Linked DNA regions of Homo sapiens. The main gene of each other region encodes a partner of the protein of the gene in region 2 in a complex. Each region holds a gene or a part of one and is shown on either strand. Other genes may lie near its edges. The genes, in order: ARL1 and GOLGA4. A codon is read from its position in the direction of its gene.

Evidence for each region.
Region 1: the proteins of GOLGA4 (region 2) and ARL1 are in contact, whole or in part, in a crystal structure (PDB 1UPT), measured with the Homo sapiens proteins. Residues at the interface, in NP_002069.2 of Homo sapiens: Thr2173, Glu2174, Glu2176, Tyr2177, Lys2180, Val2181, Glu2184, Glu2190, Thr2193, Lys2196, Val2197, Thr2200, Val2201; in NP_001168.1 of Homo sapiens: Ile49, Gly50, Phe51, Gln64, Trp66, Ser73, Ile74, Pro76, Tyr77, Cys80, Tyr81, Ser83, Glu115 (codon at 1,421).

Annotation. Positions count from the first base shown.
Region 1 is NC_000012.12:101,392,543-101,397,991, reverse strand, and holds the end of ARL1 (ADP-ribosylation factor-like protein 1), read left to right. Parts: intron 1-1,414; coding exon 1,415-1,593; intron 1,594-2,321; coding exon 2,322-2,352; 3' UTR 2,353-4,876; downstream 4,877-5,449. UniProt on the Homo sapiens protein: GTP-binding protein that recruits several effectors, such as golgins, arfaptins and Arf-GEFs to the trans-Golgi network, and modulates their functions at the Golgi complex.
Region 2 is NC_000003.12:37,246,215-37,253,506, forward strand, and holds part of GOLGA4 (golgin subfamily A member 4), read left to right. Parts: intron 1-3,483; exon of another isoform or gene 3,484-3,528; intron 3,529-5,180; coding exon 5,181-5,270; intron 5,271-7,292. UniProt on the Homo sapiens protein: Involved in vesicular trafficking at the Golgi apparatus level. May play a role in delivery of transport vesicles containing GPI-linked proteins from the trans-Golgi network through its interaction with MACF1. Involved in endosome-to-Golgi trafficking.

The DNA.
Region 1 (5,449 bases), on a different chromosome or scaffold from region 2:
ACTCCCCCAAAGCTCAGATATGGCAAATATAAACAAGATTAAGATAAGAAACCAGGCCTAACCAGAAGCCAATGACTAAGGATTAGTGATCTGAATCATAGCAAGATCTTTTGCAAAATGAGCAAAAGGCAATTCGTAGGGGAAAAACATTGCTAATAACATTTGCATTTGTTTTTAAAGAGACAGGGTCAGCAGGGCGCGGTGGCTTATGCCTGTAATCCCAGCACTTTGGGAGGCCGAGGCGGGTGGATCATGAGGTCAGGAGTTCGAGACCAGTCTGAGTGACCAACATGGTGAAACCTCATCTCTACTAAAAATACAAAAATTAGCTGGGCGTGGCAGCGGGCACCTGTAGTCCCAGCTACTCAGGAGGCTGAGGCAGGAGAATCACTTGAACCCAGGATGCAGAGGCTGCAGTGAGCCAAGATTGCACGACTGCAACTTCAGCCTGAGCAACAGAGCGAGACACTGTCTTAAAAAAAGAAAAAAAAAAAAGAGACAGGGTCTCCCTCTGTCCCCTAGGCTGGAGTGCAGTGGCACAACCAAAGCTTGTTATAACCTTGAGCTCCTCTCTCTGCTTCCTTTTTTGTTTGTTTTTTAAAAAAATTTTTGTAGAGACCCCTGTGTTGCTCAGGCTGGTCTCCAACTCCTGGACTTAAGCGATCCTCCTGCCTCAGCCCATGTGCATTTCGAATACCCTAGTAATATATAATGAGATGCTATGTTTGGAAAAGTAAATAATTCCCAACTCTACAAAGGCTGCATTGAAGATGGAGACTTTTATACACTGTTGGTAGGGTAACCTTTCTGGAAAGCTGTTCATGCATGTATTCAGTTTATCAAAGCCTGAAAAAAACTGTTCATACTTTGACTCCATTTTTAGAATATTGTGTTAAGGAAACAGATTTAAACAGAAATTTTTGTATAAAGACCCTGTCACTTGGGTTTATCTAATAGTCTAGTGGAAAGACTCTAATAAGAGTCAGATACTAGAAAATAGTTAACACAGTTTATGGTGCATGCATCCATAGTGTAGAGCATATTTAGCCATTTTTTTATTTTGAAAAAGTTGTTGTAGTTTGGAGAAACATGATTTTAATTTTTAGGCAGGGTATGGAACTATATATAAATGTGATCTTAAATGTGTAAATGTATTTACTAAATAAACTCTGAAGTATCTGCAAAACAAAGTACTAGTAGAAAACACCTAAAATGTTAACAGTGATCATATTTGGGAGGTAGGATTATGAGTGAAGCTTCTTTTCTTTATACTTCTCTATATAATTTCTATATAATTTCATAATGTGTAATATATTAATTATAAAATACACGTTTAAAATGTATTTTTGGACATTTTCTAAACTCGAGAGAGCACATTAGTTAAAAGAAATTAAATATTTTCAATTTCATTTAGGAAGAAGAGCTGAGAAAAGCCATTTTAGTGGTGTTTGCAAATAAACAGGACATGGAACAGGCCATGACTTCCTCAGAGATGGCAAATTCACTTGGGTTACCTGCCTTGAAGGACCGAAAATGGCAGATATTCAAAACGTCAGCAACCAAAGGCACCGGCCTTGATGAGGCAATGGAATGGCAAGTATCATGCTTCCAGAAGCCATCTGTGCATTTGTGTGTGCTTGCAGCTATGCACGTCCACGTGTAATTTTTCTCCCGTGTTGAGGATGAAACTTTGATTTACTTAGCAGCTTATTTCATAAGTTCCTCAAGCGTTTTCTCTCACTGGTCTTCAGGTGCATCTGTCTTCTCAACCACACCTACCTGATTACAGTTACTTAGATAAGCAAATTCTTTGCCAATTTTTAGCCTTTTCCCTGCCTCACCTCACCCTCCAATTCCTTATCCTTCAGGAATTAGCTTAAGACTCTCTTCTGAAGAGCTTTTCCTAATGTATCTCTATTCCTACTGCCTAATCACTCACTTAAAGTTAGATGCCCTTGTCACAGATTAGTGACATAGTACTTGTTTTGCTGTCTTGTAAGTTTGATTTGTTCATCTACTCATTAGATAATCACCTCCTTGAGGATTGAGACTAGTTTCACCTCTGAGTCATCCATATGTAGCCCAGAAGTAGTAGTAGCCTGGAAAATAGGTATTTGGTCTTTTTTGAATTTTTCATTCAAATCATAGACAAATTCAAAGCTTAGAGGAACCTTATGGATATCTAGTGCATAACCTCATCTGTGTTAGCTGTCATCATTTTAAGTACTTTGGAATCCACCTCCAATACAAAGTTTATTATAGATGATCATGCTTTATACCTGAAAATTAATTTTATAAAACAGTTCATTTTCTCTTTACAGGTTAGTTGAAACATTAAAAAGCAGACAGTAATTCAGTCCATTCTTCTCCCCTGAAATGAAGACTACATCACCTCTCTCCCTTTGGAAACAGTCAAGTGTACTTCACACTACTAGATGTTAAAACTATATGATTATTGGCATATACTGACTGACTGCAATATTTGTAGTAAATAGGGAAAATAAGTATTTAGTTGGAGGGATAATTTGATCGAATCACCTGAATGTTCTATGTAATGTAAAATATTCTTTTCTTGCTTTCTTGTGTTAAGGTATATATTCTATTTGTATGGAATTCTTATTCAAATACAGTTCTATTAAAGAGTATACTCCTATTGGATGAAAAAAACCTATTTTTGAATAGTAGTTGCAGCTTGTTTGTATAAATACTAAAAAATATCTTAACAGATTTTTTTCCCCTTAAAATGAATTATCTTTCCAAAGATTAGACTCAGTATGAGAGTAGGTGAGGAACATAGTTTGTGTAATATAATCTTTATTTGCTTACCTGACCACTTTTTATTAAGCTGTTTTGTTTAAAAGCTTTTGGTTATAGGCATGAATATTGTTTTGATGGTTAACTTCACTGACTTATCTGTAAGTGTCATTTTATAGTACTTTACAGTTGTCAAAAAAAATCTTACATATATTGATCTAGTTGATCGGTAGAGGAAGCTTGTGAAGTAGGTAGGACAGGTTATGATGTCTTCACTGTATGGACGTGAACCCAGGGTTCTAATAGGTTGGCTTGCCCAAGGTCACCTGCTAGCTTGTAAGGTAGGAATAGGGCTCAAAGTAAAACTTTTGGTTCAGAAGCTTGACTCATAAACTATACTATATATTCCCAAAAATGTCAGTATTGACAACACAGTCTAACTCTTAAATAAAATTATGCTAATTAGTTACATTCAAAATAATGTTTATAAATTTATTTGTCTATACTAGTAGAAGTGATCAGTGACATACTATAAATAATCCTAAATGGTTATATTTGATAGAATTCATAACACATTAAAGAGAAAATTTCACATTAAAGGAAGGTTTAAAAATCTATTTTCAGATTATAAAAGGTGTCTTTACTGGTTTTCATTCCTTTTATCTACATGTAATTGGACATGTAAACTTGTTAAAAATCAAAATCTTACTGATTGTACAGGGAGAAATTAAGCATTCTGTTTTAAAAATTAGGCTTATTGCTAGACTGTAAGTTTAAAAACAATTCATGTTCAAAGGAGCTTTTCAAATTACCCAGTCCACCACAGAATCAGCTAATGTGACAGAAGTAAATATAGTGCGTCATAATTGCTAAAAACAGGGTGAATTTCTTTCACTTAAGTTGGAAAACCAGCCTCTAAAAAATTAGGTGCTGGTAATGAGAGCTTAATACCATGGTTCCCTGCAGGTCTCAGAAACATTAGTAGTTCCTTTCTTGGCCCTCACTGTCCTTCCAGTGTTGGCCTCTGGCCTCTTCCCCTCACATTTATGTTCATTCTCCGGGCTTATATTCATTCTCTGCTGCTTTCTCCCTTCACCCGTGGGACTCTCACCCTTCTTGCTCATTCTCCAGCACCCATTCCTACTTTAGTCTCTTTGAAATCTTTTTTGGAGATTTTCCTTCAGCTACAAATGTTCCAGTACAACCAATATTACTCCTGAGGGGCAAAGACTTTTTCATATTTATGTCCCTAGTATCTGGTATGGCGCCTGGCATATGGCATTTCAGAATATGTTCATAGTTGAAACAGTAGGATAGATATTTGTCATCTTGACAAGTAGCCCTTTGCAATTTATACTTGAGTTCACTCCTGGTCAATGGCACATGGCTGGAAAATGCAGAAAGCAAGTTCACTTACAGCCTGAGGCTTATAAAGCTTGTACAGCTGCCTCCCGGCAGTCCAGGAAAACTGCAAAAAATGGGAAGTAAGGTCCTGGCAGGCAGACCCGGCATGTAGCCGCTGGCCATCTTGAATCCTAGGGCATGAAGTTGCCCCAAAGTTCAGCACTTGGTTAAGCCTGATCCCTCTGGTTTATCACAAAGAATAGGATGGGATAAAGAAAGTGGACACTTAAATAAGCTATAAATTATATGGTCCTTGTCTAGCAGGAGACAACTGCACAGGTATACTACCAGCGTTTGGATATTGATATATACATGGCAAATCTGAATATTGTTTTATGAGAGGCCTGGCAATGGGTAAAACACCAAACTTGAAATCAGAACATAGGTGCAAATGGCCACTCCTGTAGTTTCTTTTCTGTAAAATGGGATCTGGACGAATGATACCAAACGTTTCTTTCTAACATTGTATTTTATAACTCTGGCCTATGATTGTGTTGTGTCTTGCATTAAAAAAAAAAATTTGAGAGTGGTAGAATTACTTCTGTTATCTGAAATACCTGAGATGCACTTTAAACTGTTGAAATGTAAGCTCTGAGGGCAGGGACCGTATCTTATTTACTGTTAGTATCCGTTGCATCTAGTGTGGTGCACCTGGCACACAGTAGGCACTCAATAAATATGTATTGATTAAAAACAAAGACGTCTTCAATATGCCAGATATATTTGTCCTTTCTGATCTTTGCCTTAGTATTTTATTTTTAAAAATTTTATGAAAGCAATACATGCACTTAAGTCACTTAGAATTAATTAAAATCAGTCTTCTAAGATGGCCTCCTTTTGATAAATTACAAAGCCCTTAGAAGCGTGAGAATTCCCGTTTGAGATACACACTACATCAAAGCACAGATGCTGAAGTGAATGAACATTTGATTTCTGTGCCACATACTGTCATATTCTAAGCCCGTAATTACAAATTATAAAGCATGGACTTTTGTTTTTTTTTTTTTTTTTTTTTTTTGAGATGGAGTCTCACTGTCACCCAGGCTGGAGTGCATTGGCACGATCTCGGCTCACTGTAACCTCTGCCTCCCAGGCGCAAGCGATTCTCCTGGCTCAGCCTCCTGAGTAGCTGGGACTACAGGTGCCGTGCCACCACGCCCGGCTAATTTTTGTATTTTTAGTAGAGACAGGGTTTCATCATGTTGGCCAGGCTGGTCTCGAACTCCTGACCTCAAGTGATCCACCTGCCTTGGCCTCCCAAAGTGCTGGGATTACAGGTGTGAGCCACCAC
Region 2 (7,292 bases):
GAGAATTGCTTGACCCTGGGAGGCAGAGGTTGCAATGAACTGAGATCGTGCCACTGCACTCCAGCCTGGGAGACAGAGCGAGACTCCGTCTCAAAAAAAAAAAAAAAAATATGTTTTAACAACAAATACCTATTTTGGATTTTTAAACTCCTTAAAGAACTAAGTCAATAAAAGAAACATCAAGAAGTAATACAGACATTGTAATTTCTTGGGATATATGTAGTACATGAATACAAATATTTTAAAACATTTTTAGCCTTTTCAAGTACTTCTAAAACTTAAAAATTATAGAAGTATAGATACAAAAGGATGAATACATGACTCCACTTAATTGAGGTACCTAGAGTAGTCAAATTCTTAGAGACAAAATAGAATGGTTGTTGCCAAAGGCTGGAGAGAGGAGAGAATGGGGAGTTACTGTGTAGTGGGTACAGAGTTTTAGTTTGGAAAGATGAAAACGTACTGGTGATGGATGGTGGTGATTCCACAACAGTGTGAATGTAGTTCATGCCACTGAATTGTACAGCTACAAATGTTTAAAATGGTAAATTTTATGTTATGTATATTTTTAAAAAATCAACATATACGCCCCTCCTTATGCCTGCAGAATCATCCCTTATTTTTTTCCCTCAGCTCAGAGATGGCAGCTGACCTCACTCTTTTAGAGTGAGACCCCAAAATAATAGTTTATGTGATATAAATTTAAAAAATAAAAACAAAAAAACCAGCAAACAGTTCCACAGATAACAGGGAAAAGAGTCCTTTCTGAAGGGACATAGCCTTATTGTAAATCCAAGTTTACTAAATAGTTTCAGTCTTGAAATTGGGGAAAGCATGAGTCCCAGAGAAAACATTTAGATCAGAAGGTAGTTTATTAAGAACATGATGAAAGGCTTTAATAAGTTTGGTACCTAAAATATAAAGGTTTATTTGAAGAATTAACCCCAAGTTACTTTGACTGCTCTTTTAGAACTGGGATGTCAAATTGATTTGGCAGTGACTTACAACAGTGCTGTGATGAGGATTCAATGGCTGTGTCTCTGCTGTGACTAATCCATAGGTGTTGTAGGGAGAGTGAAATGAACCAGATGTTAGTTATGAACAGTGAATGCCTAGGTCCTCTGCTGGATGTTGCATTTGCTTTGAAGGGTCTATGTAGTCCCTACACAATGGAGTTGAGAGACAAGTACTTTCAGTGTAATAGTGATATATACAGGGTGTTGTAGTTGTGCAAAATAAGGCATTTCTGGAGAAGATCAGGGTGACATCTGAGTAGAGCCTTGATGGATAATGAAAAGTCATGGTATAGGGACAAGGGATTCAAGGCTTATTCCTAAGGATGACTGGATTAGTTTTCTAATATTGCATAACAAGTTACCACAACCTTAGTGCCTAATAACCCAGTTATTATTTTATAGTTCTGTAGGTCAGAAGTCTGGCATGGCATGACTGGGTTCTCTGCTCAGGGTCTTGCAAGGCTAAAATCAATATGTTGTCCAAGCTGCTTTCTCATCTGGAGCTCAGGATCTTTTTGTATGCCCATGTGGTTGTGGTAGAATTCAGTCCTTTCTGGTTATAGGACTGGGGCCTTCATTTCTTGCTGACCACTTTCGGCTTAGAGGCTACCAGCAGCTCCTTGCCACGTGCCCCTGTAGGCATTTTGCTTTCTTTCAGGACAGCAGAAGTACGTCCCTCTGCCCTCTAGACCCATATTTGAAGGGCTTATGTAATTAGTTTAGACCCATCCAGGTAATCTTTTGATGAACTCATGGTCAACTGATTAGTAACCTAGTAACCTTAAATATGCCTTTAAAATCCCTTTGCCCTGTAATATAACAATTATGAGAGTGATAGCTCATTATATTCACAGGGCAGGGGTCATTTGGGGTCATCTTACAGTTTTGCTTATCACAATGACTAAAATGGTTTTTCTTAAGTTTTTGTAGAGTCAGGGTCTTACTGTGTTACTCAGGCAGTCTTGAACTCCTGGCCTCAAGTGATCGTCTTGCCTTGGCCTCTCAAAGTGTTGGGATTACAGGCATGAGCCACTGTGCACAGCTAAAATGGTTTTTCTTACACTGAAATTGAGTATAACTGTGGTCAGTTAATAATTAGGCAGTGGGCAATAAAATATTAATTGTGGGTCTGGATGTAGCTGTCAGGTTTTTTGGTTAACAGCTTAGAAAGCTGACTCAGATTTCTTATGGCTATTGCAATTAATCAGCTCAAGTTTGGTTTGAAGGAACCTAAATCCCTTTATATCTTGAAGTGAGGATAGCCCATTAAGGAACCAGGCACCTGGGACAAATGCTGAAGTACAGTTAGTTCTTTATGCACTGTTATATACTTTATACTCACATCCATTTTCTCATATAATTCTTACTCTTGTAACTCCAGAGGAAGATCCAGAGGAAGATCAACAAGTCATCAGGCCACGTTTTGCCAGATAGTACTACTTTTCTAGGGAGAGTATGTTTTAGAATCTGTTAAACTTTGTAAACCCCGTTATTTGATTTTTTTGTCAGTTTCTCCAGAGCTGATGAGGCTCTCAGTTACTGATTAGACCATATGAGGCCAAGGTGTAAGACGTAATGCCAATTTTTCAGATTTGCAGTGAGGTATACTTTTTAAGCAGTTGGAAGGTCACTGTCTAAGGTAGCCCTTTCCTGGCATCTGGATATTTGGAAAGCTGAATTAATAACCCAGAGATTTCTTAGACATGATAGAATCACAACAGAGAGAGTTGATTAGTCAAGAGGTATTTCCTGTGGTCTAGTAGTACTTTTCTAACTTTTTACCACCCAGTGACCATTTTATTAAAGGAGTTCTTAGATATAATCATTTATAAATACATAGATACAAAAGGCTGCCCCCATAGTGGCAGCCTTTGAGGCACCTACAGCCTTTGAAGCTGGCACTGGCATGGTTTGCAAATTATGGCTCTAGGTGTGGGAAGGGTTTATTGAATTTATCTCAACTTTAATGAAAGCTATTTCTGATGTTCTTTGAACATTTGTAATTTGAACGTGGTGTTCAAGGTAGGCTCAAACTTATTCCAAGACTGAGACTAATACTACACAGTGACTGTGCTTTCCCTTGCCATTTTCTAAGTACAATGTTGACTTTTAGTCACATATTTTCTAGACATTTAAACCATTGCTAAGGCTTCAACTTTATTTCACATTGATTGATTTTCTTGTTTATATGCTTTTTTTTTTGAGACGGAGTCTTGCTCTGTCACCCAGGCTGGAGTGTAGTGGTGCAATCTTGGCTCACTGCAACCTCTGCAGTTGAAGCAATTCTCCTGCCTCAGCCTCCTGAGTACCTGGGATTACAGGCGCACAACACTACTCTTGTTCATGTTTTTAAGTCCTTATTCTTCCTGTTTTGTCTTTGGTGGGAGAGGATATGTCATCCCTTAAGGTGACTTCTGCACATAGCTAATTTCATCTGTTGTATTGATTTTTCTGGTTCATCTTTTAGAAGGTGTTGGAGTTCTTGGTTGTAAGCAACAAAAAGTCAATCTAGGTAAGCAGAAAAATAATTTATTGAAGACTCTTTACCCTACAGAATTTCCCTGAGGTCCCAAAAGTCTGAGCTGATTGCTACGTCCAGTTATACTGGGGAGACTACTCTGTGTTGCAGCTGCTTCAGCTTGGCACCAGCATTGCATCTGTCACTTCACAGCTTATATTTGTGTGGATGCATGAAGTTCTGTCTCCATTGTCATCAGATGATGAACTTTATTTGTATGTCTGTTTTTTCACATCACTCACTTATGACTCGAAGTCTCATGTGTTTCATTGATGGAGCTCAGGTTACCCTGTCTCAGATAAAAAGAAGATTGGGTTAGTAAGTTTTCTGAGTTCTAACTTACGGACTTATAAGAGCTGTTTATAGAAAAAAGGTTATTAAACTTTTGTCATATTTGTAGATGCTTTTCCTCACCTCCCAATTAAACTGCTGCTTTGATTTGTTTTTCACATAAAAATCTCTTTCCCATTCAGAGATTGTAGAAATAGACTCTTGAATTTTTTGTATTTCAATAAAAAAAATTAAATCTTTAATATAGCTTAAGTATGAAGGATCTGATTTGTGTGTCTTGCCCCATATGGATGGCCAGTTGTCCCAACATTTATTGAATGTCTATCCTGATGCAAAATGTTACTTTTATCATAAGCTAAATATGTATATGTCTGTCTGGATGTATATATGTGTATATAGAGTATGTGTATATTTGTATACTATTCCTCACGACCTCTCAGTTCCACCCTAACCACAGCAGTTTGTGCACGGATACCACAGACCAGAGTTCCATTTGTTTATTCATTCATTCATTTATTTGACAAATATTTATTAACTGCCTTTTGTAAAGTGCAGACTACAAAAAGAGGTAAGATATCATGACTCATTCATTTCTCAAAATAGATCTGAGTTCAGATCTATTTTGCTGTGGGTGTAGGGGGATTTCAAAATTTTGGTTTTATACTTTTAGGGTTGTTTTTAGCTCACCTTAGAGTAGACCCCAGACCTCTAGTTTAAATTTTGAGCCCTTTCTCCTGAGTTTTTTTGCGCTGAGGGTTATAGGAGTCAGGCTGTCAATTACAGAGCTAAATGGAATAGCATCTCAGTATTTAGCAGTGGTATTCAAGGTAGGCTCAAAGCAAGGCCATTAATTAGGTGGGCAAGTGCTGTTTATCTGTGCATTTCATACTATTGAATGTTAGAGCTAGAAGGTAGAAGGGATCTTAAAGATTGAATTGCCAGCCTTTTTTTTTTAAATGAACTTCTAATTTTGGAATAATTTTGGTTTATAGAAAAGTTCTAAAGATAGTGCAGAGAGTTTTTATATACCCCTCACCTGGCTTCAGTTTTCTCTAATATTATCATCTTACACTAGTATCGCAACTTTATTTTATATATGGAGACACATAGTCCTCAAAAAGTTCATGTAGCTAAGATCATAGTTCTAGTTGGTGGCAGAGTTAGGCCAGGGACCTAGTAGGTAGCCTGGGTTTTCTAGTTGATTATATTTGTTATCCTTTTCTGCTTTTCGTGTTTTTGCTCTTTTCCTTTCTTTCACTGAATTCTTTGGGCATGGACTGAGAGAAGGACTACCTAGTTCATAGTTCACTAGTCAATATAGTCTTGCTAATTTGTGCAATAATTTTTAAATCTAGGCGTCCTCCAATTCTTCAACACCAACAAGAATGAGGAGCAGGACATCTTCATTTACAGAGCAACTTGATGAAGGTACACCCAATAGAGAGGTAAGTTTGGAATTCCTTTTCTAGTATACCTCTCAAAAGAAACTAATCTAAAATGTATGCTGTTGATAACAAAATGGGAAACTTTTGACAGGTCAGCTATTTAATTCCTAGGTAGAGTTTTTATTAGTAACACAATTGGTCTTTTTTTTTTTTTTTTCACAAATAGCAGTTATGATTTATGTCTGTCTGTCTGTCTGTATGTATGTATGTATGTTTTTGAGACAGGGTCTGGTTCTGTCACCCAGGCTAGAGTGTGGTGGCACGATCACTGCACATTGCAGCCTTGACCTTCTGGATTCAAGTGATCCTCTAACTTCAGCCTCCTGAGTAGCTGGGACTATAGGCGCACGCCACCTGCCTGGCTAACGTTTAAATTTTTCGTAGACGGGGTCCCACTATGTTGCTCAGGCTGGTCTTGAACTCCTGGGCTCAAGTGATTCTCCCAATTATGCTTTATAAAGTATGGTTGTTGAGAACCTTAATTTGAGAGGATAATATGTTCTGGATTTAATAGTTGAAGTTTTCAGAATAATTTGATAAATTTGTTCAACATAGCATCATTTTTTCAAGCTGGTGAGTGGAAACTGAGAAGTAACTTATTTAACTTATTCCATGTAACCAGCAGCTGGCATTAAAACTCATTATTTCCCACTTTTTTTCTGTGAAGTGTAACACACATACAAAAAGAAGGTAAAACATAAATGCACGGGTCAGCAAATTATCATGAAGTGAATCCTCCCAGGTCAAGCAAAGGAACACTGTTAGCACTGTCGTGCTCCCTTTCCCCCTGAAGGATTACCACCATCCTGAATTTTTGGTATTTGCTTGCTTCCTTTTTTTTTTTTTTTTTAATAGTTTTACCTCTTAAATATGCTTTCTAAATGTAAACATTGTAGTTAAACATTTGGGTTGTCTACAGGTTTTGGCTACTATGAATTATGTTGCCATCAACATTATTGTACTTTTTTTTGGTGTACATGTACCTGCATTTCTGTTGGTATGTACTTTGGAGTAGAATCACTGCTCCATTTTAACACATAAGAAGATAATGCTGATGGTTTTCCAGAGTGGTTGTAGAAATTTAAATTCTCACCAGGAGCTTATGAAAGTTGCTTTTGCCCTATATTTTTGAGAGTCTTTATTTTTCTACTCTGTGTAAATATGCTGGAAAACAGTCTTTTTCATTTCAGCTGTTCTGGTGGTGGTCTTTCATTTTGGTTTTAATTTACATTCTCTGATAACTAACGAGATTGAGCATTTACATCTGTTTATTGCCCATTTGATGTCTTTTGTGAGTGCTTAAGTCCCTTGCCCATTTTCTATTGGATTATCTTTTTTTAAAACTGATTTGTAGGAGTTTTTTAAAAAATATAGAATACTAAGGAGTTTTTTGTTGAATATATATCTTGCAGCTATCTTCCACTCAGTGGCTTGCCATTCATTTTAATGATGTCCTTTGATGAACAGAAGTTCTTAGTTTTAGGCCAAGTATGGTGGCTCATGCCTGTAATCCCAGCGCTTTGGAAGGCCAAGGCAGGAGGATTGCTTGAGTCCAGGAGTTTGAGACCAGCCTGGGCAACAGAGTGAGACCCTGTTTCTGCAAAAATAAAATAAAATAAAATTAGCTAGGTATGGTGGCATGCACCTGTGTGGTCCCAGCTACTCAGGAGGCTAAGGCAGGGGCATTACTTGAGCCTCGGAGGTCGAAGCTGCAGTGAACCATGATTGCACCAGCCTAGGTGACACAGTAAGACCCTGTCTTTCAAAAAAAAAAAAAAGCCTGGTTCCCATCCATTTCCCATCCCTGACAGTACCTTCTATCTTAGAAGTTTAACAAAATGAGAAACCGCATAGGGTACAGGGAAATGATGAAAAAATTAATTTAATGTCCTTTTAACCAAAAACTTAATTATATAATTGAAAAATCCTTTATTTATTATAAAATAAGTTGAAGTAAGGTTTAGATTGCACTCTGTGGTCAAAGTACCTGTTAAAGTTGTCAAAAAAGCTTAAAAAGCAAGG